4 linked regions of the Homo sapiens genome follow. Each later gene encodes a partner of the first gene's protein in a complex. Each region holds a gene or a part of one and is shown in the gene's direction. Other genes may lie near its edges. The genes, in order: PPP2CA, PPP2R5D, PPP2R2A and PPME1.

Region 1 (7,030 bases):
CTGATTTGAAGGGGAAATATTTAAATAGTAAAAATAGATGTATACCATAAGAGGTCATTGTTACTAAAAAATCCTGAGGCCATTATTTTGTTAACCCATCAACAATTAACAGTGTTACATGTTCAGAACTGAGAGAATCTAAGTATGCATTTATAAAAGACAAGAGTGAACATGGTTTTTATGTTACTGACTAGCTAAAAAGAATTTTAAGATGTGATTAAGACTTATACAAAAGCCAAGGTTGTTAGTGTATAGTATACTTTGTCATCTTGAGAATCATAATTTGTTGATAGTTTAATAATTTGGTGTGCAGCTTTGCCTCAGGCTCAGTTCTATAATCAGCATTACATCAGTATAACTGGCCGGGTATGTTTCAATCTACAGATTGAAAGGAGTAAATAGTATCAACTTGCTTTTGCATTGACTACAGTAAACAATCTTTTATTATGTGACTTCAGCTTTGTTTTAGCTTGGGTATGATTTCTTGGCTTTGTGCTTACCAAACATGTGGAGAACGTTGTTTGATAGCCAGATTTTTTTTTTTCAAAGAAGTTCTTTACCTAGGTATGCTGTTTTCCATTGCTTTGCAAGCACTATAAATAAAGTGCAGTCATTAGTCATTAAAATGTTAGTTTTAACATTTGTTACGTGAGTATGGAAAAAACAAACTGCTTCCTTCTAATTAGATGAGCTGAAAAATATTTGACCAAGATGACATTCTTATATGAATTGGGTAATATGTTGCTGTGAGTATGTGTGTACGTTTCATTTTAAAGGGTGTTTGGCTCATTTCTCTAGAAGTGATTTGAATATTGAGGACAAGCAGGTGGGGGAAGCATGTTACAGAACATTATTTTTATCATACTTTTATAAGATATTGTTCTCAGTTACAGATGCAACTCAAAGACTCAGAAAGGTAAAGTGACTTGACTAAAGGGGCTAAAAGTGAGATTGCCAAGGCTTGTGGATTCTAAGCCTAATGTTCTGGTATTGCTTCACAGATCCCCTTCTGTTTTCAGAGGTAGTGTTAGTAGTGAAAGATGTAGGTAAATTGGGGCCAAGCTAAATTGGGAAGTCAACACTTTCATAAAATAAAACTTTTTTTTTTTTTTTTTTTTGAGATAAGGTCTTACTCTTTTGCCCAGTCTGGAGTGCAGTGGCGCAATCTCGGCTCACTGCAACCTCCACCTCCCAGGTTCAAGCAGTTCTCCTGCATCAGTCTCCCTAGTAGCTGGGATTACAGGTACCCACCACCATGCCCAGCTGTTTTGTATTTTTAGTAGAGATGGGATTTCACCATGTTGGCCAGGCTAGTCTCGAACTCCTGACCTTCAGTGATCCACCCACCTCAGCCTCCCAAAGTGCTGGGATTACAGGCTTGAGCCAGCGCGCCTGGCCAAGACATTATTTTTATTTTCATTGCTTGAAAGCTTCCTATTCATGTTACATACTGTTGTTCCTCTTTGTCTTGGAAAGAGTAATTATTATTCAGTTTTGGATGTAGCTGACAACATTTGCCCCTCAAATGAGATTGGTGAGATGAAAACCCTAGATAATTTCCCTTGTATTCTTAGTATAAATCATGATCCAGAGACTGAGCTCTAAAGTATTCTAATAAAGTATAACTGACTTTTTATATTGTTTATTGCAACTTATAAAATGCCTCTTTTCAGCAGGGCAAGGTGGCTCACACGCCTGTAATCCTAGCACTTTGGAAGGCCACGGCAGGCGGATCACGAGGTCAGGAGACCAAGACCAATCCTGGCTAACACGGTGAAGCCCCGTCTCTACTTAAAAATACAAAAAATTAGCCGGGCGTGGTGGCACACACCTGTAGTCTCAGCTACTGGGGAGGCTGAGACAGGAGAATTGCTTGAACCTGGGAGGCGGAGGTTGCAGTGAACCAAGATTGTGCCACTGCACTCCAGCCTGGGCGACAGAGGGAGACCCCATTCCCCCCGGCCCCAAAAAAGCCTCTTTTCATCCTCTTGGCTTCCACAGTCAAATGTCATGCATGTGTGTATTTGTTTCATGGTCTCCTAGGCAGGAAGCTGTAATGCAGTTAGTTTGGAGTTGACTTCATGAGGAAACAGAAAAGGTGAACATTCCCACTATTCAGAAACACAGGTTCCCCAACCCTCCCTACGTTCTCCACTGGGACCAGAATTGTATGTTTTCAGAAAATTGGCTGTAAGGCTAAGTTGAAGCTCATGTACTGTAGAAAGAATGAAGGACCCTTCAGGAGTATGTGGGATAACATTTGTATTACCAGTCTGGTGTGGCCCTGTTTTATGGCAGCAAATATGTTCCCTATCTCATGGTAAGTCAGGTTTGTCAGAGTTACCTGTGAGATAGCCTTTGCTTAGTTTGGAAGGGGTAAGTTAGGAAAACTAAGAGACTGGGTTTGGTGGGGTCTTTTATCAGGGTACTGAGGAGAGAGGCAAAGCTATATGTAACAGGGAGACACTATTTATTCTTTCTGCTTTGACCCATTTCTCTTACTTCATTATCATCCTTGCCTGAGAAAGCTGTCAACCTCCACTCATACACAGGCAGATCTGAATTGGATGAGAACCATGAAGGAGGAAGATTTTTGTTTTTGTGGGCTTTTTTTTTTTTTTTTTTTTTTGAGATAGAGTCTCACAGTCGCCCAGGCTGGAGTGCAGTGGTGTGATCTCGGCTCACTGCACCCTCTGCCTCCCAAGTTCAAGCAGTTCTCCTGCCTCAGCCTCCCAAATAGTTGGGATTATAGGTGTGTGCCACCACACCCAGCTAATTTTTGTATTTTTAGTAGAGACAGGGTTTCACCATGTTGGCCAGGCTGGTCTTGAACTCCTTACGTCAAGTGATCCACCCATCTCAGCCTCCCAAAGTGCTAGGATTACAGGCATGAGCCACTGGCACCAGACCTGTTTTTGTTTTAAATAGATTTTCTTTTGGCTTCTGGGGCAGAAGTGGTAGACCAGGCTGAAGAAGGGAGAGGTGTCTATTGTCAGTAAATGGCTGAGAGGTGGGGTTTGAAAGAATGGTAAAGAACAACCTGAGATTAACTGCTTTTTTTTTTTTTTTTTTTTTGATACGGAGCCTCGCTCTGTTGCCCAGGCCAGAGTACAGTTGCATGATCTCGGCTCACTGCAACCTTTGTCTCCCACGTTCAAGTGTTTCTCCTGCCTCAGCCTCCTGAGTAGCTGGGATTACAGGCATGTGCCACCATGCCTAGCTAATTTTTTTATTTTTAGTAGAGACAGGGTTTCATCATGTTGGCCAGGCTGGTCTTGAACTGCTGACCTCAAGTGATCCGCCCGCCTCAGCCTCCCAAAGTGCTGGGATTACAGGTGTGAGCCACTGTGCCCAGCTAACTGCTTAACTTCTTCACATTGCAGTATTATTGCCTGTTTATTGGTCTGTTGTGGATTGTGGTTTAGAATGGATGAACAAGGCAGTGACACAGATGCGTGTATATCTGAATCTGGGTATTTTTTAAACTAAATGTGACCAGTTGGCCAGTCCCTCTTGCACCCTGTGTTGCCACTTCTGCCTTAGTTTAGTCATTTAGTTGCTACTACAGATGGGGATTTTTACCCTGCTGGTGTTGAGGCTGGAAGGTTGCAAACCTTTGTCCTAGATGGGGACGAGGAGTAGAATGGGAGACAAGCAGTAGCATGTGTTTACCTGGCCAAAGGCCTGCAAAATGTAGTTCACAGAGGTTATGGAGTGTCATTGATGCTATCGTGTGACAGTGTACATTTGATTTTGGAACCAGTATTTAATAAACCTTCATTGTATGCATTATTGTCACTATTGAGCTTTGTCTAAAAAGCACTACCTTATTCTCGTGTATAAGGATTTCTTAGTTTGGTTTTGCTCTAATTAATAGCACAGTTTTGGATTAGTCAGGAGATTGACTTTATAGTTAATTCTAGATAGGGAATGTTTTAGAATGCTTGTGCCGGTGGTGATCAAGTAACTTATTTTTCTGCCACTAATCTGTAAATGAGCAATAATGCCCACTATCTATTTCTTTTGGCTGGCTTTACTTAATAAAATAGGCTTAAGACATGCTTTAGGATGGGGTAGAATTCTAGTAATGGAATCAACCTTAAAGACCATCTAGGCTGGCGGGGCACAGTGGCTCACGCCTGGAATCCCAGCACTTTGGGAGGCTGAGGTGGGTGGATCACGAGGTCAGGAGATGGAGCCCATCCTGGCTAGCACGGTGAAACCCCGTCTCTACTAAAAATACAAAAAATTTAGCCAGGCATGGTGGTGGGCGCCTGTAGTCCCAGCTGCTCGGGAGGCTGAGGCAGGAGAATTGCTTGAACCCAGCAGGCAGAGGTTGCAGTGAGCCGAGATCGTGCCCCTGCACTCCAGCCTAAGCGACAGCAAGACTCCATCTTAAAAGAAAAAAAAAAAAAAGAAAGAAACAACCATCTAGACTAATTCATCTTACACAGATGAGGGAGGAAACTGAGACCCAGAGTGGTTGAATCTTGTTCATGATGTATTATTGTGACAATTTTTTAATAAGTAGATATATAGCAGCATTTCTCAGTTGTGTAGTAGATTAAAACTTCTTTTTCTATGCAGGAATGATTGGGAGTGTTTAATTCATTCACATATGTAGGTTAGTTGGTAAAGGTTGAGTTTAGTCTATTGTGCATATGAGACATAGGGCTTTAAGGATCTTTCCTTTTGGTCAGAGGCAAAGGTGATATTGCAGAAACAGATGGGAAAACTCACAAATTTTATATTTTCTTTTATTACACTTTTAGAATTATCCCTCATTCCCAACATTTTTCTTTTATTTAGGTCCTAAGCCTTAGAGCCAAACAGAAAATACTAGTTACTAGAATATTACCTGGAGGGTTAAACTTTTAAAATATAACCATACTGATTTTAATCAAAGAAGATTGAAATGTTTCGTGAAATATTAGTGGTATCTGTTCAGTGTAGTTAATGAAAGACAAGTAGTCATGCACCACATAATGACATTTTGGTCAGTGGTGGACTGCATGTGATGGTGGTCTTATGAAATTATAATGGAGCTGAAAAATTCCTATCACCTGGTGACCTTGTAATGTCATAGTGTAACACTTTATATTGTTTATGTTTAGTTATACAAATACTTAACATTATGTTAACAGTTGCCTACAGCATTCAGTACAGTAAATGCTGTACAAGTTTGTAGCCTAGGAGCAATAGGCTATCCAATAGCTTAGGTTTGTAGTAGTCTATACTATCTAGATTTGTGTAAGACCACTCTGTGATGTTCACACAACAACTAAATAATTTGATGTATCCCTGCGATTAAGCAACACATGATTAGTATGAAGAATGGTTTGATAGTTGAAGGAAATTAACTCAAAACTCATTTGCTTCCAGGGCTAGTAATATGTTCTACATCATGTATCACCCCACGCCTCAAACTCTAGCCCTGTACACTAACTTATCACAAACCTTGGATTTTTTTGCACAATTATCAAAATGACATATCAAACCAACCGTACATCTTGACATAAAAACAGTATGAGACAAAATGAAATTCTCTTGGGATATTGAAAAAATTTTTTTTGCCTGTGAATTTAGTAATTTTACTTATTAAGAATTTTCAAATGATTTCAGTTCTTAAACTGAAAAATAAAATTCAAAAATTAATTGCATTTTTTCCAGTGTTTCTTCTATGTCTTTATATTGGTAGAACTGTCCAACTATATGGTAAGGATGTGAAATGTTAAATTTACTTGAACTAGAGTTACAATGAACATTAGAATTAATAATCAGACTTCTTTTTTTTTTCTTTTTTTGAGAAGGGAGTTTCGCTCTTGTTGCCCAGGCTGGAGTGCAGTGGCACGGTCTTGGCTCACCGCCACCTCCACCTTCCAGATTCAAGCAATTCTCCTGCCCCAGCCTCCCGGGTAGCTGGGATTACAGGCATGCGCCACCACACCCAGCTAATTTTTGTATTATTAGAGATGAGGTTTCTCTGTGTTGGTCAGGCTGGTCCTCAAACTCCCGATCTCAGGTGATCTGCCTGCCTTGGCCTCCCAAAGTGCTGGGATTACAGGCGTGAGCCACTTCGCCCGGCCAATAATCAGACTTTTAGTAGTAAAATTACTTTCAAAAATGGAGATTCCTTTGTCAAATAGTACTATTATTAGTACTAAGATTGTAAAGAGGTTATTTGTGTCTGATTTTGAGTTTGATGCTACAGAGAAGACAGGTTAGGCCTGCATTGACGTTTTTCATCAAGGGCAGAATTGATGATACAGAAACTTGATTTCTGTCTAGGCATGGTGGCTCATACCTACAATCCTGGTGCTTTGGGAGGCGGAGGCTGGAAGCTCACTCGAGACTAGGAGTTTGAGACCAGCTTGGGCAATGTAGTGAGACCACCGTTTCTACAAAACAAAAAACAGGTTTCTTTAGTTAAGTATAAATCATTGATCTGTGATTAATCCAAACACTTTTTCCTCAGTATAGACCTTGGGGTTCTTCGGTGTTTGACTACCTTCTTTTGAAGGAAACCACTTTTTTTTTTTTTTTTTTTTGAGGCAGTCTCACTCTGTTGCCCAGGCTGGAATGCAGTGGCACAATCTCAGCCCACTGCAACCTCCGCCTCATGGGTTCAAGTGATTCTCCAGCTTCAGCCTCCTGAGTAGCTGGCATTACAGGCATGCACCACCATGCCCAGCTAATTTTTGTATTTTTAGTAGGGGAGGGGGTGTTTCGCCATGTTGCCCAGGCTGTTCTCAAACTCCTGACCTCAAGCGATCCACCCACCCTGGCCTCCCGAAGTGCTGGGATTACAGGCATGATCCACCGTGCCCACCCGAAACCACTTGTAATATACCTTTAGGAGAATGCTTTTAGTTACATCATGATCCCTTTCATGTAGCTAACAACAAAAATGAATATTAACCCCAAATATTGGAACTCGTATTTTGAAGCAAGTTATTTCTTGGTATACTTTAGTGCCAGAATTGGTACTGTTATGTGATTAACTGTTTTTGAGACTAAGAAAATATTTTGC
Region 2 (7,666 bases), on another chromosome or scaffold:
CTAGAGCGGGGCAGGCAGCAGAGCAGGCAGAAGGAAAGGAGTTCAAGGCTTCTGTCAGCATAACACCAACAGTCGACTTCCTGCGTGTGCTGTTATTTAGATTCCATCCTTCTCTTCACCTCCACTGTTCTGTACAAGACACTCAGCTAGTGGTAGGCCACATTTCCTTTTTTATGGCAACAGGGTCCTACTCTGTCACCCAGGTTGGAGTACAGTGGCACGATCCCCATTCATTGCAGCTTCTACCGTCCCAGGCTCAAGTGATCTCCCACCTCAGCCTCCCGAGTAACTGTAGCCGGGACCACAGGCACACGCCACCATACCCAGCCAATTTTTTTTTTGAGACGGAGTTTCGGTCTTGTTGCCCAGGCCAGAGTGCAATGGCACGATCTCAGCTCACTGCAATCTCCGCTTCCCAGGTTCAAAGAATCTCCTGCCCCAGCCTCCCAAGTAGCTGAGATTACAGGTGTGTGCCACCACACCCAGCTAATGTTGTATTTTCAGTAGAGACGGGGTTTCACCCTGTTGGTCAGGCTGGTCTCGAACTCCTGGCTTCAAGTGAGCCACCTGCTTACGCCTCCCAAAGTGCTGGGATTACAGGCATGAGCCACTGCGCCTGGACTAATTTTTTATTTTTTGTAGAGACAGAGTTTCTCTGTGTTGCCTAGGCTGGTCTCAAACTCCTGGTCTGAAGAGATCCTCAGGCCTCAGCCTCCCAAAGTGCTGGGACTACAGGCATAAGCCATCATGTCCCACTGCATTTCCAATTATTAACAATTATTTTCACTTACAATAAATGAATTGGATGGTGCCAATCTCCATTTTCTAGACCTTACATTCTCTTTCAGCTACTGCTCAGCTTTCTCCATCTCTCCTTTCTTCTTGAGGCAGTCTTCTATTTTGTACATTATACATTCCTGAAAATTTGAAAGACAAATATATGAAAACTATTAGATTTGCATATTATAAGGGGCTGGGCGCAGTGGCTCATGGCTGTAATCCCAGCACTTTGGGAGGCCAAGTGGGTGGACTGCTTGAGGCCAGGAGTTTGAGACCAGCCTGGCCAACATGGTGAAACCCCGTCTCTACTAAAAATACAAAAATTAGCTGGGTATGGTGGTGTGTGCCTGTAGTCCCAGCTACTCGGGAGGCTGAGGCAGGAGAATGGCGTGAAGCCGGGAGACAGAGCTTGCAGTGAGCCGAGACTGCGCCACTGCACTCCAGCCTGGGTGACAGAGTGAGATTCCGTCTCAAAAAAATAAATAATAGAAAAAAATAAATAAAATAGCATGCAAGAATGTACTAACCAGGAACCATGGCTTGTGTCTATAATCCCAGCTATGGGGAGGCTGAGGCAGAAGGATCACTTGAACCCAGGAATTTGAGGCTATGATTGTGCCACTGCACTCCAAGTGGGTGACAGAGCAAGACCTTGTCTCTTAAAATATATAAAATTAAAAGAAAAAAAAACTAAATAAAGAATGTTCTAGGTACCTAGATTCACATGGATGAAAGTTCCCATTTGGTAGTGCTACTATATGTTTCTTGGTCCCCTATGTCCCAGAGGAACCAAGGGCTAGATAGATGGTACATGGGCCTAAAGAGGATATGCCTGCTTTCCTCAGTAGCAGGCAAGCTCTAGGCCTCAGGACTATAGTGCTCCTTGAGGCCTTGGAGATGGGTAAAAACATCAGTTATCTTGCCTGGATCAGCACTCATACAGACACAAATACCCACCCACAAATAAATGTCCTTTTCTCCCAAGCTTTTCTCCCAGCAGGTAACAGCGGGCATGTAGTCCACTTTGTGTTACCCTGAAATCGTCATTAGTCACCGAAAGCCAAATACTACTTCTGTAAGATCGCCAGGACCCTACATTTGCCATCTTCACTTCCTCACCTCTTGATGCTCACTCTTCCACTCACTAAAAACGGTCTTCCACTCTCTGAAAAAATCACCCATAATCTTCTAATTGCAGAATCAAGATGATGCTGTTCTTTCTCTGACACTACTGACCAATTGTCTTTTATTTCCTTTGCCATTATGACACCAGTTGTCCTCCTACAACTCTGATCACTTCCAGAAATCATCCTCAACTCTTCCCTTTCCGTTACCGTCCCCCCCACAATACAATGAATCACCATATCCTGTTGATTCTACACATTTTCATGCTCCATCCTCTCTTCTCCATCCCCACGGCCACTGTCTTGTAACATTGCTCTCCTGGGTACCTGGGTAAGGGACACAGGTTTTGTGTTTTTTTTTTTTTTTTTCAGATGGAGTCTTGCCCTGTCGCCCAGGCTGGAATGCAATGGTGCGATCTCGGCTCACTGCAAACTCCACCTCCCGGGTTCAATGGATTATCCTGCCTCAGCCTCCTGAGTAGCTGGGATTACAGGCACCCACCGTCATGCCTGGCTAATTTTTGTATTTTTGTAGAGACGGGGTTTTGCCATGTTGGCCAGGCTGGTCCTGAACTCCTGACCTCAGGTGATCCGCCCTCCTCAGTCTCCCAAAGTGCTGGGATTACAGGCGTGAGCCACTGCGCCTGACCTTTTTTTTTTTTAAGACTAAATATTTTATTTTATATAGAATTTTAAAAATTTATTTTTTGTACATGAATAAGTTCTTTAGTGGTGATTTATGAGATTTTGATGCAGCCATCACCCAAGCAGTGTATACTGTACCCAATGTGTAGTATTTTTTTTTTTTTTTGAGACGGAGTCTTGCTCTGTCGCCCAGGCTGGAGTGCAGTGGCATGATCTAGGCTCACTGCAACCTCTGCCTCCCGGGTTCACGCCATTCTCCTGCCTCAGCCTCCCGGGTAGCTGGGACTACAGGCGCCTGCCACCACGCCCGGCTATTTTTTTGTATTATTTTAGTAGAGACGGGGTTTCATCGTGTTATCCAGGATGGTCTCGATCTCCTGACCTCGTGATCCGCCCGCCTCGGCCTCCTAAAGTGCTGGGATTACGGGCGTGAGCCACCGCGCCCGGCCTCCATTGTATCATTCTCATGCCTTTGCATCACAGGTTTCTTCTTTTTTTTTTGTAGACGGAGTCTTGCTCTGTCGCCCAGGCTGGAGCGCAGTGGCATGATCTCGGCTCACTGCAACCTCCACCTACCGGGGTCAAGTAATTCTCCTGCCTCAGCCTCCTACCGGGTTCAAGTGATTCTCCTGCTTCAGTCTCCCGAGTAGCTGGGACTACAGGCGCGCGCCACCACGCCCCGCTAATTTTTGTATTTTTCATAGAGGCATGGTTTCACCATGTTGGCCGGGATGGCCTCGATCTCTTGACTCGTGATCCGCCCACCTCGGCCTCCCAAAGTGCTGGGATTACAGGCGTGAGCCACCGCACCCTGTCTAATTTTTGTATTTTTAGTAGAAATGGGGTTTCACCACTATGGTCAGGCTGGTCTCAAACTCCTGACCTCGTGATCTGCCCACTTTGGTCTCCCAAAGTGTTGGGACTACAGGCGTGAGCCACCGAGCCTGGCCACAGGTTTATTCTTTTTGTCGTCATTGTTGCTGTTTTGAGACAGAGTCTTGCTCTGTCGCCCAGGCTGGAGTGCAGTGGTGTGATCTCGGCTCACTGCAACCTCCGTCTCCCGGGTTCAAGTGATTCTCCTGCCTCAGCCTCCCGAGTAGCTGGGATTACAGGCGTGCACCACCACACCCAGCTAATTTTTGTATTTTTAATAGAGACGGGGTTTCGCCATGTTGGCCAGGCTGGTCTCGAACCTCTGACCTCAGGTGATCCTCCTGCCTCAGCCTCCCAAAGTGTTGGGATTACAGGCGTGAGACACCGTGCCTGCCTGGTTTACATTCTCTCTTAATCCTTTGTTTATACACATCTGTGATTCACCAGACTGCGAACTCTTTGTGGGCATAAACTGAGTCTTACCCATTAGAACACGGACTTGAGCAGGGTGGCAAGTAAGGGATGGATTTCCTGAGACAGTCAACAATGAAGTTGCTTTTCCACTGCGTTCCCAACTGCTCAAATCTAGCTGGTTCCCCAATCCCAGTACACTTGCAGTAGCAACGGGGACCCTCTTCCTAAAGTTGCACCAAGCCAGGGATTCTCCACTCATTTCGCCCAGGTCCTAGCCCTGCCAGGCTTCCCCTTTGCTCCTCTGCAACCCCTGTCTAGGGAGGCGGGTGTCTTGGAAGGTCCTTGGGAGCTCCCTCCATCAATTTTGCATCTGCAATTAGGGCTACTTTACCCCAGTGAAGAAAGGTGCCCTCCGTATTAGGGCTTCCTTCCTCCAATTCCGACTGGACAGGGTAGCAGAGCGGGCAAAGTGTGAGAGCCTTTAGAAGGAAAGAGCAGGGCTCCAAGCGCCGCGAAGAATGGCCGAGGCCGACGCACAGCAGACGCTGGAGTGCAGCCCTCCTAGCCAAGCTTGGGTTTCCCCTTATCCCCGCCTCCTTCTCTAAGCTCGACCCACTTTAGGGCGGGACCACCCACTTCAGCCAATTCTGGAAGCCGAACCCTGGCGGTTTGTACTATTTCTTTCCAATAAGAAAAAAAGGAAGCAGCTTGGCTCCAATGACCAATCCGAGGAGGCGGCGCCTGGTTGTCAGGCAGTTTTGTAGGAGTTCGGGCCAATTGGAGGCGCAGGCACCGCTCGACCCGGGCGCAGCGCGCAGGCGGTGGCGAAGAGACGCCGAGCGGGCCGAGTGCGGCCGAGCAAAGCCGGAGCCGGAGCGGGGCCGCAGGAGACGGGCCGGGTCCGGACGGGCCGAGATGCCCTATAAACTGAAAAAGGAGAAGGTGAGCGTGGCCCTTTTTCCCCCACCGCCGCCTTGGAGCCTGCGCGGAGCTCTGGGAGGGGCCGGAGCCAGGCCCGGGACAGCCCCAGACTGACCCTCCCGTCCAGCCCCCGCAGGACTCCTGGGGCCAGCCCTCCGCCCCCGCGGCTGGCAGCACCCCCAGCTTGTGCCGCAGCTAGGACAGCTCCCCCACCTTGCCCCGGAGAGACTCCCCCCACATACACCTCCCTCCCTTCTTCCCTTCTCTTACCCCCGGCCCAGGGTAACCTCCTTCTTCCAGATCTGCCCCATTCCCAGGTCACTGTCCTGCTTTTTCTGTCCCCCCCATCACCCCTGGCCCCGATCCCCCTTCGGTTTGGGCAGCCCCTCATCTGAAACTGCACCTTCCTCCAGAATTGCCCCCTCGCCCCGCCCTGAGCAGCCCCTTGTCTCCTCTTCCTACCCGCCTGGGACAGCCGCCCCGCAGTCCCCTACGGCCCCTTCTCTTTCCATGCCAAGCCCCTGACCTAGAACAGCGCTGCTTTCTCTCTCCTCCACCCAAATCTGGCCTAGGCCCCTCCCTCTAGTTCTTCCTTCACACACAAACTTGTAAGCAGGACTGAGCCCTTCTGTTGATGGAACCTCACAACGTTGGTGCTGGAAGGGACCTCTGAGCGCATGCAGTGCAATCCCTAATGGTACAGATGAGGAGACTGAGGCCCCGACAGGGCAAGGGACTTGTCCAAGGTCACACAGCCTGCTGGAGGCCCAGCTGCAATATCAGGTCTCCTGACTTAAAGGCCTCTTTTGTATCAAAGCCCTCCTAACTGTCACCCAAGTGCATCCTAGACCAGTCACCTTTCCTAATCTGAGTAGGCTCCTCACCCTTATTCTTAATCCTAGGATAACCTTTGCATTTTTCCTTTTTTTTTTTCTTTTCGCACCAGTGCTGGATTTCTGCCTTTCCTAAGCTACACCATCTTCAAATTGGGAATTTGTCCTCACTGTCAGATTATTGTTCCTTCTTAGCCTGCAGGCCAGCCACCCCTGAACACCCATGTCTTTATCATGATGTCCTGACACAGGCCATTTCTTTTTTTTTTTTTTTTTTTGAGATGGAATTTTGCTCTTGTTGCCCAGGCTGGAGTGCAATGGCGCGATCTCGGCTCACCACAACCTCTGCCTTCTAGCTTCAAGCGATTCTCCTGCCTCAGCCTCCCAAGTAGCTGGAATTACAGGCATGCGCCACCACATCCGGCTAATTTTGTATTTTTAGTAGAGACGGGGTTTCTCCATGTTGATCAGGCTGGTCTTGAACTCCTGACCTCAGGTGATCTGACCCCCTCGGCCTCCCAAAGTGCTGGGATTACAGGTGTGAGCCACCGTGCCTGGCCCACAGGCCAGTTCTTAATGTTGCCTTCTTTCACCTTCCTCATCTACCTCGGTGCTGCCTTCCCCTGCTCCTCATCCGTGCCTTTTTCTACCCTCTGTTTCCTGCTGTTGCTGAGGTCTGACTCAGAGGTGTGGTTCCTTTGAGGTACAGACTCACACATAGGATGCTAGGATACCAGTTCCAGCCTCCCCCAGCTTCTCCTCTCCTGGGGCTGGCCCTTTTTGGTGGGGGTTGGCTCTGGCCTGGTGTTCTGGCCACCTGCTCGATGACCCCAGAGGTATATTGCTTTCATTTGCCCTCTGATTGGCTGGGTTACTGGGCTGCCATCTCTGACCTTTTCAATCAAACTTTTTCTCCTGGGGCTGTTCTGTATTTGCCAGGCAGCTCTGATTCTGAGTTGTCCCCTTAACCTTTCAGGGCCTGAGGTTCTAAGTACAGGGTTGGTGATGGTGTACTAGATAGTGAGCCTCCTGGGAGTAGTGAGCTGGACAGGGTTTTGTGCCCCACCCAGGCCCTGTCCTTGGGGAGTGGGCATGCGGAGGTGGTTTGGGTAGCTCAGTCGTAGACAATGCACACAGAAATCAGCCACAACAGGGGCTAAGGGAAATGGAATTCGGGGAAAGCTGGTGAGGTCCCCACCCATTTGTAATTTTTAGTCTGTTGGACTAGATACTGTCCCATCCACAGAAAGCAATAGCCTACTAGATTGTGAAGAAGACAAATTGCCAGTGAGATTTGCTAGGACCATGGGTGTAAACGTTTGGTTGGGAAAGGGTGTTGGAAGTAACGGGGTGCATGGAGCCAGGCATAACTCTCACCTCCCTATAAGGTTTTTCTGCTCTTGATTTTCAGTTGCATTTGGCCTTCTTCAATGGTTGGCAGGCTCTAAGGGGCAGGGGGGTTGCCAGTGTGACTGAGGTTTGTCTGGATGGCTGTGGGTGGAGGATCTTTATTGCTCATCTATGACCTGTCCCCTCTCTCCTGGCCATCTTTCACAGCTTCCTCTCTAAAGCCTTTCTGAGCCCTCAGTCAGGAGTGAACTCTCCTTTCTTTTCTGGATTTGCAGAACACTTAGTAGGCCACTTATGGTCCTTTTGTGTTTGGCCTTGGATGGGAATTAATTGTGGACAAGACTTTTCTTCCCCTTTGAGATAATAACTAAGTTTCATTTTGGTTTGACAACTCCTTTTCACACGGTAAGTACGTGCTTAGTGGATAGGTGCTAAGATAATCTCTTGGAGGGATTCGCATCTCTCCTCTTCCTTCATGTTCTCCTCTGGGACTTACCTCTTTTATTTTCCTGAGTAGGGTGCCCCTGCCCCCTCCGATTTTTTTCTTGTTCATAATAATAGTAATAACATTGACCAGCACTACGGTTTTCATGTGCCTTAACACTGTGCTGAGGGAAGAGGGTATTATGATTGTCATCATCTAATAGATGAGGAAACTGAGGCTCAGAGAGGCTAGTTAACTTGCCTGTGATTACACAGCCAGTAAGAGTTGGGCCCAAAACACAG
Region 3 (7,030 bases), on another chromosome or scaffold:
ACTTCTGGACTCAAGTGATCCTTCCCACTTCAGCCTCCCCAGTAGCTGAGACTACAGGCGTGCACTGCAACACTTGACTAATTTTTTTTTTCTCTCTCTCTTTTTTTGGTAGGGATGGTCTCACTGTGTTGCTGATCTTGAACTCCTGACCTCAAGCAATCCTCTGTCTTGGCCTCCCAAAGTGTTGGATTACAGGCATGAGCTGCGACTCCTAGCCAGAGCTGCTTTTTATATGTTTATTGGCTATTTGGATGTTATCTTTTGGAAGTGACTATCGAAATCTCTTATAATTTTCTGTGTTGTGTGTCATTTTTCTTACTGATTTGTAGACTTTCTTTACACTTTTTGTAGATGAACTCTTTTTCAGTTACATTTGTTGGAGGATCCAGGGGCAGTGGCTCACGCCTGTAATCCTAGCACTTTGGGAGGCTGAATTGGTTGGATCACTTGAGCCCAGGAAATTGAGACCAGGCTGGGCAATATAGCAAGACCTCATCTTTTTTAAAAAACAAAACAAAACAAAACAAGAAAACCCACACATTTGTTAGAAGTATTTTTCATTCTGTGACTTGCCTTTTCATTTTTTTGAATAGTATATTTTTATAAATAGAGATTATTAATATAATACAGTTGATCAGTATTTTTCTTAGGGTTACTGGTTTTTCTGTCCTGTATAAGAAATACTTTTCAACCCCAAAATCCAGGGAAGACATTTCCGTTATCTTTTAGAACTGTATGACTGGTACTGTAGCTACTAGATCCATGTGGCTATTCAGATTAATGGGGAGTTGAGTCTGTTCTCTCTCCCCTAATGCAAGACCCTGTTGCAGTGGTCCCTGTCTCCATGGCCCTCTTTAAAGTCAGCCTTACTACCTTATAAATAAGTAAATAAATAAATTTAAATTATTAAAAATAAATTGTAGAATTAACTTCCTTAGTTGCAGTAGCCACATTTTAGGTGTTCAGTGTGTGCCTAGTGCTCAACATGACTAGTGGCAACCATACTGGACAACACAGATACAGACTATTTCCATCATTGCAGAAAAGTTCTCTTGGGTCCTGTTATCCTAAAACTTAATTATTGTACCTTCACATTTATATCTCTTATTCATCTGTAATCACTTTACGAGTGGTTTTGGGAAGGGGTCGAGCTTCATTTTATTTCCTATGAATAGTCAACCTAACACCATTTAGTGAAAAGACCATCCTTTCCCCATTGCCCAGCAAGGCAACCTTTGTCATCATTTAGGCCTGTTTCTGGGCCATCTGTTCTGTTTCATTGGCACATTGGTGTATCCTCATGCCAGTACACAGTCTTTATGACTTTGCTTTAAAACTTGGTTATGATGTCCTTTAGTGAATTCTGTTAGCATCTGTGTTGAAAATGTGTGATTTTGGTTTTGTGTCCTGTGTTTGTAATGTATGTAAAGTATGTGACATAGCTCATTCTAAATCCTGCTTTGAAAGTCTTTATTGAATGCCTGTTATATGTGCCAAGTACTGTTATAGGTGCTGGGGAATAAAGCACATCTAAACTTACTGTAGAAACTTTCATGCAAATAGATTGTATGGTTAGGAAGATGATTCTCATAGTGATCATAAAGGCAAGCAAGAAAAGAGAGGGAGGTGAAAATGCTGTGCAGGTAAAGCCAGTATGAATTGTTGAAGGATGTGTCACAATTCTGTATGACTGTAGGAGAGGTTTTTAAAACAAAAACATTGTGTTTGATTTTGATGCATTCTCATTTGAGTGGCTCAGTGTTGAGTATGCGGTTATGTGTCTTCTTATTCAGGCTTGCTCACTGTACTTTGTTTGTGCAGGGAACAATGCTATCATGATCATTATAATGTAAACATCCCCTCCCAAAGTGTTAGGAAAAGTCTGCTGCAGCTCCCTGTGGTCTACTGTCAGTTACCACTTGTACCCATCTGTTTTATAGCCTCTTCAGTTTTGTTACTGCTGCTGTCATTTCTGCCATTACTCTTTGTCCTGTGGACTTGTTTTTAAAAGTTCTGTTATGATCACTTTAATAAAGTTTCAGGAGAGAGGGGAGGCTAATGCATGTGCTCAGCCTGGCATCTTGAGCTTTTTAGACAGAATTTTCTCCTTTTGTGATACATTAATTTATTTCCTGTTGCAAAGAGATGGAGCTTCTTGCAGTCCACGAAACTGCCATATACCTCTATGATTTTGTTTTTGGATTCTGTAAGATACCATGTTTAGTAGACCTGTGTTGTTGTCCACGAGTCTACAGGAAGATGTTCATGTTTTGTTTCAGAAAATATTTCTGTTGTTTTGTGCTTTTCTTAACTCATCAAATACAATGTGTGGCTCGCCCTTGGCCCTTCATATTGCTTACCTTAATTGTGTAGACCATAACCAGTTTCTACTTTGACTAAAGTTTGACGTACACAAGTTACTTGAATGTGGGGATTCTGTCTATCCCTCTACGCCCTAGTGTACATAGTACTATATATTATAGTCTCTTTAAGTGTTAAATGAAAAACCAGTCTAAAATGCAGGATTTATATTAAAAATCGAGTTGCCTGCTTAATGGTATTGTGGTTTCCTTGTAGACTATAATGATAAATTTTGTGAGACTGGGTGAGTCATTTTAGGTAAAAGATTTGTGGAGCTTTAAAGTGATACTGGAGTATTTATATATGTTAATGGAATAGGCTGTCTAATTTTGTGTATGGGTATGGTGATGAGACCAAGGCTCTGAGTCTGATTTTTACCCCTTGTGTATCCCCGATATGTGGATCGTTTTGTGGGACATGTATTCTTAACATTGGCAGACTTGCCCTCTAATAACTGATAACTGCTGTCCAAGGGTTCAAATACAACCATCCATGAATGAACAACCCAGATCATCAGGCTGCTGGAAAAAACAACCCAAAACATAGACTTTCAAGATGATTCAGTGAAGTTTCCTTTTGATATGGAGAATAGTAATAGGCTGTTTTTATTATCAAGAAGTTCTAAACATTTCACTGGGTAACTCACTTTTACTTAAAATAGTTGACTGTCAATAATATCTCATTCTATTTTTTACTTAAACTTTTTCCATAGGTGGTTCTTTGAACTAGACTTTCAAATTTTTTTATGAAAATGTTTTTAATCGTGTGATAATAGGTCAAAAGATGAAATTCTGAACATGATTATAATTCTCACTTTTGCTGAGATATTAATGCTAACCAGAGTAGTTCAAAAGTAGTCCCTTTATGAGATAGCTTAAATTACATTTTTTCAAAGTGATACTAAATGAAATTAGTCATCAGTGTGTGCCAGGTTCATAAGATGAGAAAGCAAATTTAAGGCGAGTAAGCAGTTGTTGATGGGGGTGCATGGGGCCATTGCTGGGTAGTGCTGAATATGGACTTGATTGGTAGCAAAGCTGTCTGGAACAGTGGTCTTGGGGTGGGAGGTAGGGGTCAAATGGTATCCCTTCTTTTATAAGAGCTCTTTTTTTAAGCTTTCAGCAGCGAAATAACCAAAAGGCGGGCAGCAGAAAGGAAAAGGACAATACATCATATTAAATAACAGATCGGGGAGTTGACCCTAAAGTGGGCATAGGAAGAAGGTGTGCCTCACCTAGCTCTTTCTGGGCAAGACTTTATCATTATTTTTAGATGAACTTCCTTATTATGGGTGCTCAGTTTTTTTTCATCAGTTTTTTTCATAGACTATACCATCAAATACATAAGAGTAAATTAGCAATCAAATTGATCCATATTTAACGTCATTATTTCCCTAATGAATTGAGCTTATTTATTCAGCTTTATTTAGCCTTTTCCCCCGTTAAGTTTTCTCATTTAATCCTTGAAGGCCTTTAGAAATATAAAAAACAGAATGTAATTGTATAAAGACACAACTAATGGGGTATTGAGAATGTGCAGGGTCCTTTGGAATTGATTACATATTTGATTATTTTGAAATATTTTTCAACAATGGTCCATATATTTTTGTTTTCATTTTAGAACAAAATCCAGTCTCATAGCAGAGGAGAATATAATGTTTACAGCACCTTCCAGAGCCATGAACCAGAGTTTGACTACTTGAAAAGTTTAGAAATAGAAGAAAAGATCAACAAAATTAGGTGGTTACCCCAGAAAAATGCTGCTCAGTTTTTATTGTCTACCAATGGTAAGTATACATATTTTCTTTCCATGTGCCCACTGTGTGTACCTGTTGCACATATCCTGTAGCCTAGGAGAGGAATCATTTAACAGAGATACTTGTAAAAAGGACTTTTGTTTTTCTATACAGAATGTAAACTCTACTTTTTTACTGTCACTTGCAGTTTTTAGATTCTCTGAAAGATTCTCTGATAGCAATTTTTTGTTTACTACACCTCCAATTTGTAGTGAAAAGAATGGGCTGCTATACCATTGGATTTAGGTCAGGTAATATTTCTGTCATTTCTCAGTCTCGTAATCTTGGGCAGGTTACTAACACTGAATTGAATTTTCCTCAGCAGCAAACTAGAGATAGCAATTTTTTATTATAGTATTATTATGAATATTAAATAACTTCACATACATCATGAGTGCAAGTGCTCAATAAATGTTAATTTATTCCTCCTTTTTAAGTGTTTGTAAACTACACAGAGTATCTCAAACTGCAGATACAAAATACTCAAAGGATGGTCTCCATTCCAGGATACGCTATAGGAGAGCACTTTCTTACTTGATCACCATTAGCATATTGCCTTCTTCCCAGCAATCCACATGGCTGGAAGGAGATTCCTCTCCTACTGTTTACTTGCCAAGGGAACATTTTTTGTTGTTTTTTGAGACAATGTCTGTCGCCCAGGCTGAAGTGCATTGGTGTAATCACAGCTCACTGCAGCCTCGACCTCCCTACCTCAGTCTCCTGAGTAGCTGGGACCACAGGTGAGTGCCACCACACCCGGCTAATTTTTTAAAAACATTTTTGTAGAGACTGGGTCTCCCTATGTTGCTCAGGCTGGTCTTGAATTCCTGGGCTCAAGCAGTCTGCCCCGCTCAGTCTCCCAAAGTGCTGGGATTACACGTGTGAGCCACTATGCCTGGCCCAGGAAAAGTTGAGTGAGGATTAAAAGTTAGTAATGACAGGCCGGGCGTGGTGGCTCACGCCTGTAATCCCAGCACTTTAGGAGGCTGAGGCGGGTGGATCACGAGGTCAGGAGATTGAGACCATCCTGGCTAACATGGTGAAACCGTGTCTCTACTAAAAATACAAAAAAATTATCCGGGTGTGGTGGCGGGTGCCTGTAGTTCCAGCTACTGGGGCGGGGGTGCTGAGGCAGGAGAATGGGGTGAACCTGGGAGGCAGAGCTTGCAGTGAGCCGAGATCGCGCCATTGCACTCCAGCCTGGGCAACAGAGCGAGACTCGTCTCAAAAAAAAAAAAAAAAAGTTAGTAATGACTCTACCAGAATTTGAAATCCTTTATGATGAGTTGGGTGCTTTCTCTTTGTTCTTATGAAAAACTTTTTCCTGTGAATTGTTTGGACTTTGTTGGGGTCTTGAGTCTAAAGGGAATCATTAGAGTGACTGAGGAGATACTTTAGTTTCTGGGTAGCCGTAGTCTATAAAAATTTGTGATTAAAACTTTTTTGAGGTTGGTGCTAGGGTGAGGGGAACCTCTTATTTTCTCATCCCCTCACTATTAATTTAAAAAGCAAATTCTAACACCTAGACCATAAACATTTGCAGAATATATACTTAAATGACTTCAGGATGAAATGGGGGAAGAAATTCAGCACTTCCTCCATCTAATTGATGCCCCTCGTCCACAGTATTAGTTCTTAGAAATGCTGTTCACAAATGCCTGATGGCCATCAGCGTTGGCCGCCTCCTGGGTGCCCGTTTTTCTGATCATGAAAGCTTTCCCCAGCCAGTCCATTGAGATGCGTACCCTCTGCCTTCTCTGTTTTCACAATAGACTGCATTCCCCTCTCTTGTCCTTATTAGAAGAAAAATAAAGAGAAGTAACTATTTAAAGCCTGTAAATCACAGCACTATGGGTGGAGGGAACAGTTTATTCCTGTCATATGCTAGCTTCTAGTCTTGGGTCAGTTTTAATTTATATGGTAAACTAAGTTATTTCAAATAGCTTCAAATATTTTAGACACTGTTCTTTGGCATCAGATGATACATAATTAAACCATTTATATAATTTCTACTTTTAGAAGTAAATGTTCCTAGGGAAATGTGTTGTTAACATTTTATATATTGGAATATTTTTATGTCAGTTTATTTCTTATAGGGCTACATCAGCTTTCTTATAAAGAGAACTTTTTAAATGTAGGCTGAGTTCAAGAGAATAGTATAGTGAAGCCCTGCATGCTCATCATCCACTTCTGACACTCCTCAGTTCATGGCTAATTTGTGTCTCGGATCCTTCCCCTTCCCCTCCTCCTCAGTGTTATTTCGAAGCAAATCCGATTACAACGTCTATGGATTAAATCTTGTTTAAAGACATTAGAGAATGCATTGTAGATTTTTGTCTTTTGTTTCTTAATACTAAGTAAAATACAGCTAACTGGGGGCTGCATTTTTTAATGCTAAAATAAGTGCTTAATAATAGAGTCCAATGTGGAAGGATAAAGCAGATTATGAGAATCATATGAACTGTTGTGTCTGGGTAGATGGGAAAAGGATGGGAGGAGTAGGACTTGAACTATATCTGAAAAACTATTTGGAAAGAAGGAGACTTAGAGAAAAATGTCAACATCTGTTGATTCTGAGTGATATCTTTTATATTATTTTGTGTATTTTTCTCTGTGAGTTTTTTCTGTGAGCATAGTAACACCCCCCCCCCCCAATATAATGGGTCTATATAAAAACTATATCTGTGGGAGAATGATGGAAAATAGTACCAAACTTTCCAGGTTTGATTAACCAAAATTAATCTTATAAAAATATTTGCATTGGCTTTCCATGATCATTATATGAACTGGGTTTCCCAGATCATTTTTACTTAAAGGACGTCATAGTCACCTTATAACTTGAGTTAATTTAATGTTCCTTCAAGCATTTTAATT
Region 4 (3,945 bases), on another chromosome or scaffold:
TACCCCCAAAAGCCAGAGATGGAAGAGGGATGATTAGGGTAGAAACTGCTCCCTAAACCACAGGCACAGTTAGGAATTAATATGGGCTCCTCCTGTGAGAAAACACCATTCTGTAACTCTGAGGGCACACATAAGCCCTTCACGTCATTCCTCTTGAGCTCTATGGAGCTATCCCTGGCAAGGATAGTGGGGAGGAGTCTTCTAGCTCTGCTAGGGAGGGCCTAGGTCCTTTTAATTTCAAGCCACTCAGACCTGTGGGTGGGATGAGGGCACCGTAGAGCCTAACCATCTAACAGTAGCTCACAGCCCAAGGCTAAGCCCCATCACTAACCTTTATATGGCCTGGAATATCTCTCCCATTTCCAGGTAGCTGAAGCTGTTGCCACTTTCCTGATCCGGCACAGGTTTGCAGAACCCATCGGTGGATTCCAGTGGTAAGGCGGGTACAAGGGTTTAAGAACCCAGCAGTGCTGGCCGAATCTGACAAGCAGACACTTGTAGGACTGTAAATATCTCTGCCTTACCCCTGCCTGGTTTGGTCACCATGCCTTTCTTCCTCCTCCTCAGTGAAGAGCCTGGCATGTCTGTTTCTACAAAGCCATGGTTGGTTGTTTCTTTGTGCTGTGCTCCCACGGGTTGATGCTGAGGCTGTGATTAAATTGTGCCTAGTCTCACTCCCCACTGTGATGTGCATTTCTTCTTGAGGTGCCCCTTTGAGGAGGCTGGGATAGGAATCAGTCCTTTTCCAGGCTCCTAGAGAAGTTTTCTTTGGCTTCTCCTGCCCTGCTGCCAAGGAAAGCTGGGCAGGCCATGGAGCAGGGCTTTTTTTTTTTTTTTTTTTTCTTGGCACAGTCTTGGTTCACTGCAACCTCTGCCACCTGGGCTCAAGTGATCCAGTGCCTCAGTCTCCCGAGTAGCTGGGATCACAGGCGTACGCCACCGTACCCGGCTAATTTTGTTTTTTTTTTTGTTTTTTTTTTTTTTTAGTAAAGATGGTGGTTTCTCCATGTTGGCCAGGCTGGTCTTGAACTCCTGGCCTCAAGTGATCCACCCGCATCGGCCTCCTAAAGTGTTGGGATTATAGGGATTATAGGCACAAGCCACCGCGCCTGGCCTAGAGCAGGGTTTTCTACAGTGTTGCACAGTGTCTTCCCATGGCCAGCTACTAAGCAAGCTGGGAATGGAATGGGTGCCTCTGCCAGGCTTGCTTCCCCTCCCTTTCCGAAGCTGGCAGAATATTAGCCACTCTGCAGGGGTGATCCTGGAAGCTCTAGAGCAGGGTTTTCAACCTCAGCTTTATTGACATTTTGAGGTGGATAATTCTTCATTGTGGGGACTGTCCTGTGCATTGTAGGATGCTTAGCAGTATCCCTGGCTTTTACCCACCTGATAACAGTAGTACCCCTCCCACACACGGTTTTGACAAACAGAAATGTCTCCAGATTTTACCAAATGCCTCAAGGGAGGCAAAAATTCCCCCTCTATTGGTCTAGAGGAAGAAACAGGGCCAGGTCTCTCATCCTAGGTAGCTCTTCATCTGTTTAGGGAAACACAGTTGGGCTCTTTGTTGAGGAAGAAGAGAGGCATGTTGACCAAACCAGGTGGTATTGACCCACCTCAGCCAGCTCCTAGTCTGTACTGCAGAAGGCCTTTGATCCTCAGAGAGCCCACAACCCTCATGAGGAGTCATTCCTACCATTGAAAAGTCTCTTCTCTGATTTTGGTGAGGGCTTGGGGAAACTTGTTCCCCACTCTCAGAAAGTTTGCAGAAGAAATATTAAGAAAAGGAAATGGCTTCTGCGTTAGAGAACTCTGAATTCCAGGGCCTGGGAGATGAGAGTGACAGGGCAGGGTAAGCACTGGAGATGATGGCAAGACCTTGGGACAGTGAACCACAGAAGCGACACCCCTATGCTGAGCCATCCCTCTAACAACTGACCATTCATGGATCCCAGGAACCAACAATAAAGACTTAATTTCTCTTACTAAACAGTGTTTGGCTGGGGCCCTTCGACCATTTGGAGCCTTGGGCAAATGAGCAGCACACTGAGAGCAGACCCTGGGTCCAGCTCTGGTCAGGGCTGTGAAATGGGTCAGATTTGCCAGGGCCTTGGTGGTCATTAGGGAGGGCTTCCTGGAGGATACAGATAAGCAAGGGAAAGCTATTGATAGTTACATTTGTTTTTCCTTCTCTTTCTGTTCTTCCACAGTGTGTTTCCTGGCTGTTAGTGACCTGCTGTCCACCCCTCCTCAACATCGAGCTCTGTTGTAAATACGTCGCACCAGAGGCCACTGTGATGCCACTGTCTCCTCTCCATCCCGCCCAGCCATGTGACACTGGCTCCCGGTAGACGGGCACCCCGAGATGTACCAACCTTTTCATGTATTCTGCCAAAAGCATTGTTTTCCAGGGCCCTTGACCAACATCGGCTTCCCCAGTCCAGGGCTCCCCTGCTCCTTTCCCTTCCCTGTACTGGGGTAGCTCCTGCCTGCTCTCCCTGCGTTGCCTAGGGTAAAGCCTCCAGATTTGCCATACTGAGCCCCTCTTCCTAGCATCAGGCGATACATCTGAGTTCAAATGTCTTCCCAGGCTCAGGGACCTCCATTCCTTGAGATTGTCTTGGCATGGCCCAGCCCTGCCTCATGGGATGGACAATGCATGGGGTGGTCTTTATTTTTCCCTTTCAAATAAAACACTAGTCAGGTACCGTTTTATCCCAGTCGTACTCTTCCAGGTTTGGAAGACCCAGAGAGGCCAAGATCCCATCCTTAGCCATAGCGAGCGGTGGTGGTGGATAGCATCACAAGAAACGAGCCTGAAAATCAGGTCCAGCCGGTCCAAGCACATGGCCTCCCATCTGGGAGAGCCCACTGTCCCACTCCCACATGTCTGGGCACCTGCCCTGGGCTGAGGCCAGGCTGCTCCAGGGGCCTCCTGCGCCCTCACCTGCCACAGAGCAACCCAGGTTAAATACAGCCCATGCACAAAGCCACAGGCCAAAGCCTATGGAATTGTTTTTAATCATCAAATTTAACCATTTTCATAACTGGTTCCTGGAGGTGTGCAGTGCCCCCTTGCCTCTTCAAACCTACAGCTTCTCTTTGCCATTTGTGGATTTCACATCACTCCACACAGAAACATTACAGCCTGGCATCCCCAGTCTTTGCCTTCTTCCAGCTGCCTCGACACAGCACTGTGGCCTGTCCCTATTGCCCAGGCACGCCATTTCCAAGGGCAGGAAGGGGCAGTGTCCTGAAGCCCATCTTTTCTGTGACTGTCTTAGGTGATGTGTAGCCCCCTCCACCTTTCCACTCAACAACCTCCCACCCCTGTCCTGCTGCATGGTCCGGAGTCTGGGACCTACTTTGTTTTTTGTTATTTATGACCTTGTTTAAAGAAAATAAATATCTCCCAACCTTTATTGGTCTGGTCTTTCTCTGTGGAATTGTCCTTATTTCTGCTGATATGGGGGCAGGGGACAGCTCATTGGACTTAGTTGTCATGGAACTCCAGAAACCCCTTTCCCTATAGCCCTTCAGTGTGTTATGCTCTGCCTGTCCCCTGATCCAGAATGCCCAGTGGGATGGTCAGAGCCACCCTCCTCTGCAGCCAGGATGGGATTCCAGTCCCATCTCTCCTAATTATCGGCTGTGTCGACTTTGGTCCAGAGCAGGACAATCTGTGCACTGTCCACATGATCTCAGTCACCATAGCTTCACTTATGTGAAACTTCATCTACAACCCAAATCATTTCCTGAGCTCTGAACAGGTAGGCCCAGGTTCCTCCTCCTGTCTCTCCCAGATGACCAAAAGCCACTTCATATTGACTGTTTCTAAAGCTGAATCCACCTTCCCCCGGAAACTTGCTCCCCATGAAACTTGCTCTTCCTCCAGCGTTTCCTGGCTCAATAAGTGATAGGTATCACCATCTCTCCAGTTGTCCA

What was found.
Region 2: the proteins of PPP2CA (region 1) and PPP2R5D are in contact, whole or in part, in a cryo-EM structure (PDB 8U1X), measured with the Homo sapiens proteins. Residues at the interface, in NP_002706.1 of Homo sapiens: Arg89, Tyr91, Arg121, Gln122, Ile123, Gln125, Val126, Tyr127, Gly128, Tyr130, Asp131, Leu134, Arg135, Ala140, Trp143, His191, Trp200, Arg214, Ala216, Leu243, Met245, Tyr265, Tyr267, Arg268, Cys269, Arg302, Arg303, Asp306, Tyr307, Leu309; in NP_006236.1 of Homo sapiens: Ile80, Lys82, Asn188, Pro189, Ala192, Glu193, Phe194, Asp195, Glu198, Asp199, Glu200, Ile288, Tyr289, Glu290, Glu292, Lys332, Val333, Lys334, Lys367, Phe368, Trp369, Pro370, Lys371, Thr372, His373, Ser374, Pro375, Lys376, Ser413, Pro414.
Region 3: the proteins of PPP2CA (region 1) and PPP2R2A are in contact, whole or in part, in a cryo-EM structure (PDB 9C6B), measured with the Homo sapiens proteins. Residues at the interface, in NP_002706.1 of Homo sapiens: Arg89, Tyr91, Val126, Tyr127, Gly128, Asp131, Arg135, Cys266, Tyr267, Arg268, Arg295, Pro298, His299, Val300, Thr301, Arg302, Arg303, Thr304, Pro305, Tyr307, Phe308; in NP_002708.1 of Homo sapiens: Tyr86 (codon at 4,057), Leu87 (codon at 4,060), Lys88 (codon at 4,063), Ser89 (codon at 4,066), Ala173, Asn174, Ala175, Glu190, Asn201, Leu202, Trp203, His204, Ile207, Thr208, Asp209, Arg210, Ser211, Phe212, Asn213, Ile214, Val215, Asp216, Met256, Ala260, Leu261, Asp263.
Region 4: the proteins of PPP2CA (region 1) and PPME1 are in contact, whole or in part, in a crystal structure (PDB 3C5W), measured with the Homo sapiens proteins. Residues at the interface, in NP_002706.1 of Homo sapiens: His59, Arg89, Gln122, Val126, Tyr127, Asp202, Ile211, Ser212, Pro213, Arg214, Gly215, Ala216, Gly217, His241, Gln242, Leu243, Met245, Phe260, Tyr265, Cys266, Arg268, Cys269, Thr304, Pro305, Asp306, Tyr307, Phe308, Leu309; in NP_057231.1 of Homo sapiens: Gly84, Gly85, Met157, Asp181, Val182, Thr186, Ala187, Ala190, Ser193, Met194, Phe197, Leu198, Leu291, Trp298, Trp301, Phe302, Lys316, Val323, Asp324, Arg325, Leu326, Asp327, Lys328, Thr331, Ile332, Gln334, Met335, Gln336, Gly337, Lys338.

What each region holds. Positions count from the first base shown.
Region 1 is NC_000005.10:134,216,056-134,223,085, reverse strand, and holds part of PPP2CA (serine/threonine-protein phosphatase 2A catalytic subunit alpha isoform), read left to right. Parts: intron 1-7,030. UniProt on the Homo sapiens protein: Catalytic subunit of protein phosphatase 2A (PP2A), a serine/threonine phosphatase involved in the regulation of a wide variety of enzymes, signal transduction pathways, and cellular events.
Region 2 is NC_000006.12:42,979,927-42,987,592, forward strand, and holds the start of PPP2R5D (serine/threonine-protein phosphatase 2A 56 kDa regulatory subunit delta isoform), read left to right. Parts: upstream 1-4,643; 5' UTR 4,644-4,751; coding exon 4,752-4,778; intron 4,779-7,666. UniProt on the Homo sapiens protein: The B regulatory subunit might modulate substrate selectivity and catalytic activity, and might also direct the localization of the catalytic enzyme to a particular subcellular compartment.
Region 3 is NC_000008.11:26,350,487-26,357,516, forward strand, and holds part of PPP2R2A (serine/threonine-protein phosphatase 2A 55 kDa regulatory subunit B alpha isoform), read left to right. Parts: intron 1-3,981; coding exon 3,982-4,147; intron 4,148-7,030. UniProt on the Homo sapiens protein: Substrate-recognition subunit of protein phosphatase 2A (PP2A) that plays a key role in cell cycle by controlling mitosis entry and exit. Involved in chromosome clustering during late mitosis by mediating dephosphorylation of MKI67.
Region 4 is NC_000011.10:74,251,282-74,255,226, forward strand, and holds the end of PPME1 (protein phosphatase methylesterase 1), read left to right. Parts: exon of another isoform or gene 1-349; intron 350-366; coding exon 367-434; intron 435-1,132; exon of another isoform or gene 1,133-1,271; intron 1,272-2,210; coding exon 2,211-2,229; 3' UTR 2,230-3,422; downstream 3,423-3,945. UniProt on the Homo sapiens protein: Demethylates proteins that have been reversibly carboxymethylated. Demethylates PPP2CB (in vitro) and PPP2CA. Binding to PPP2CA displaces the manganese ion and inactivates the enzyme.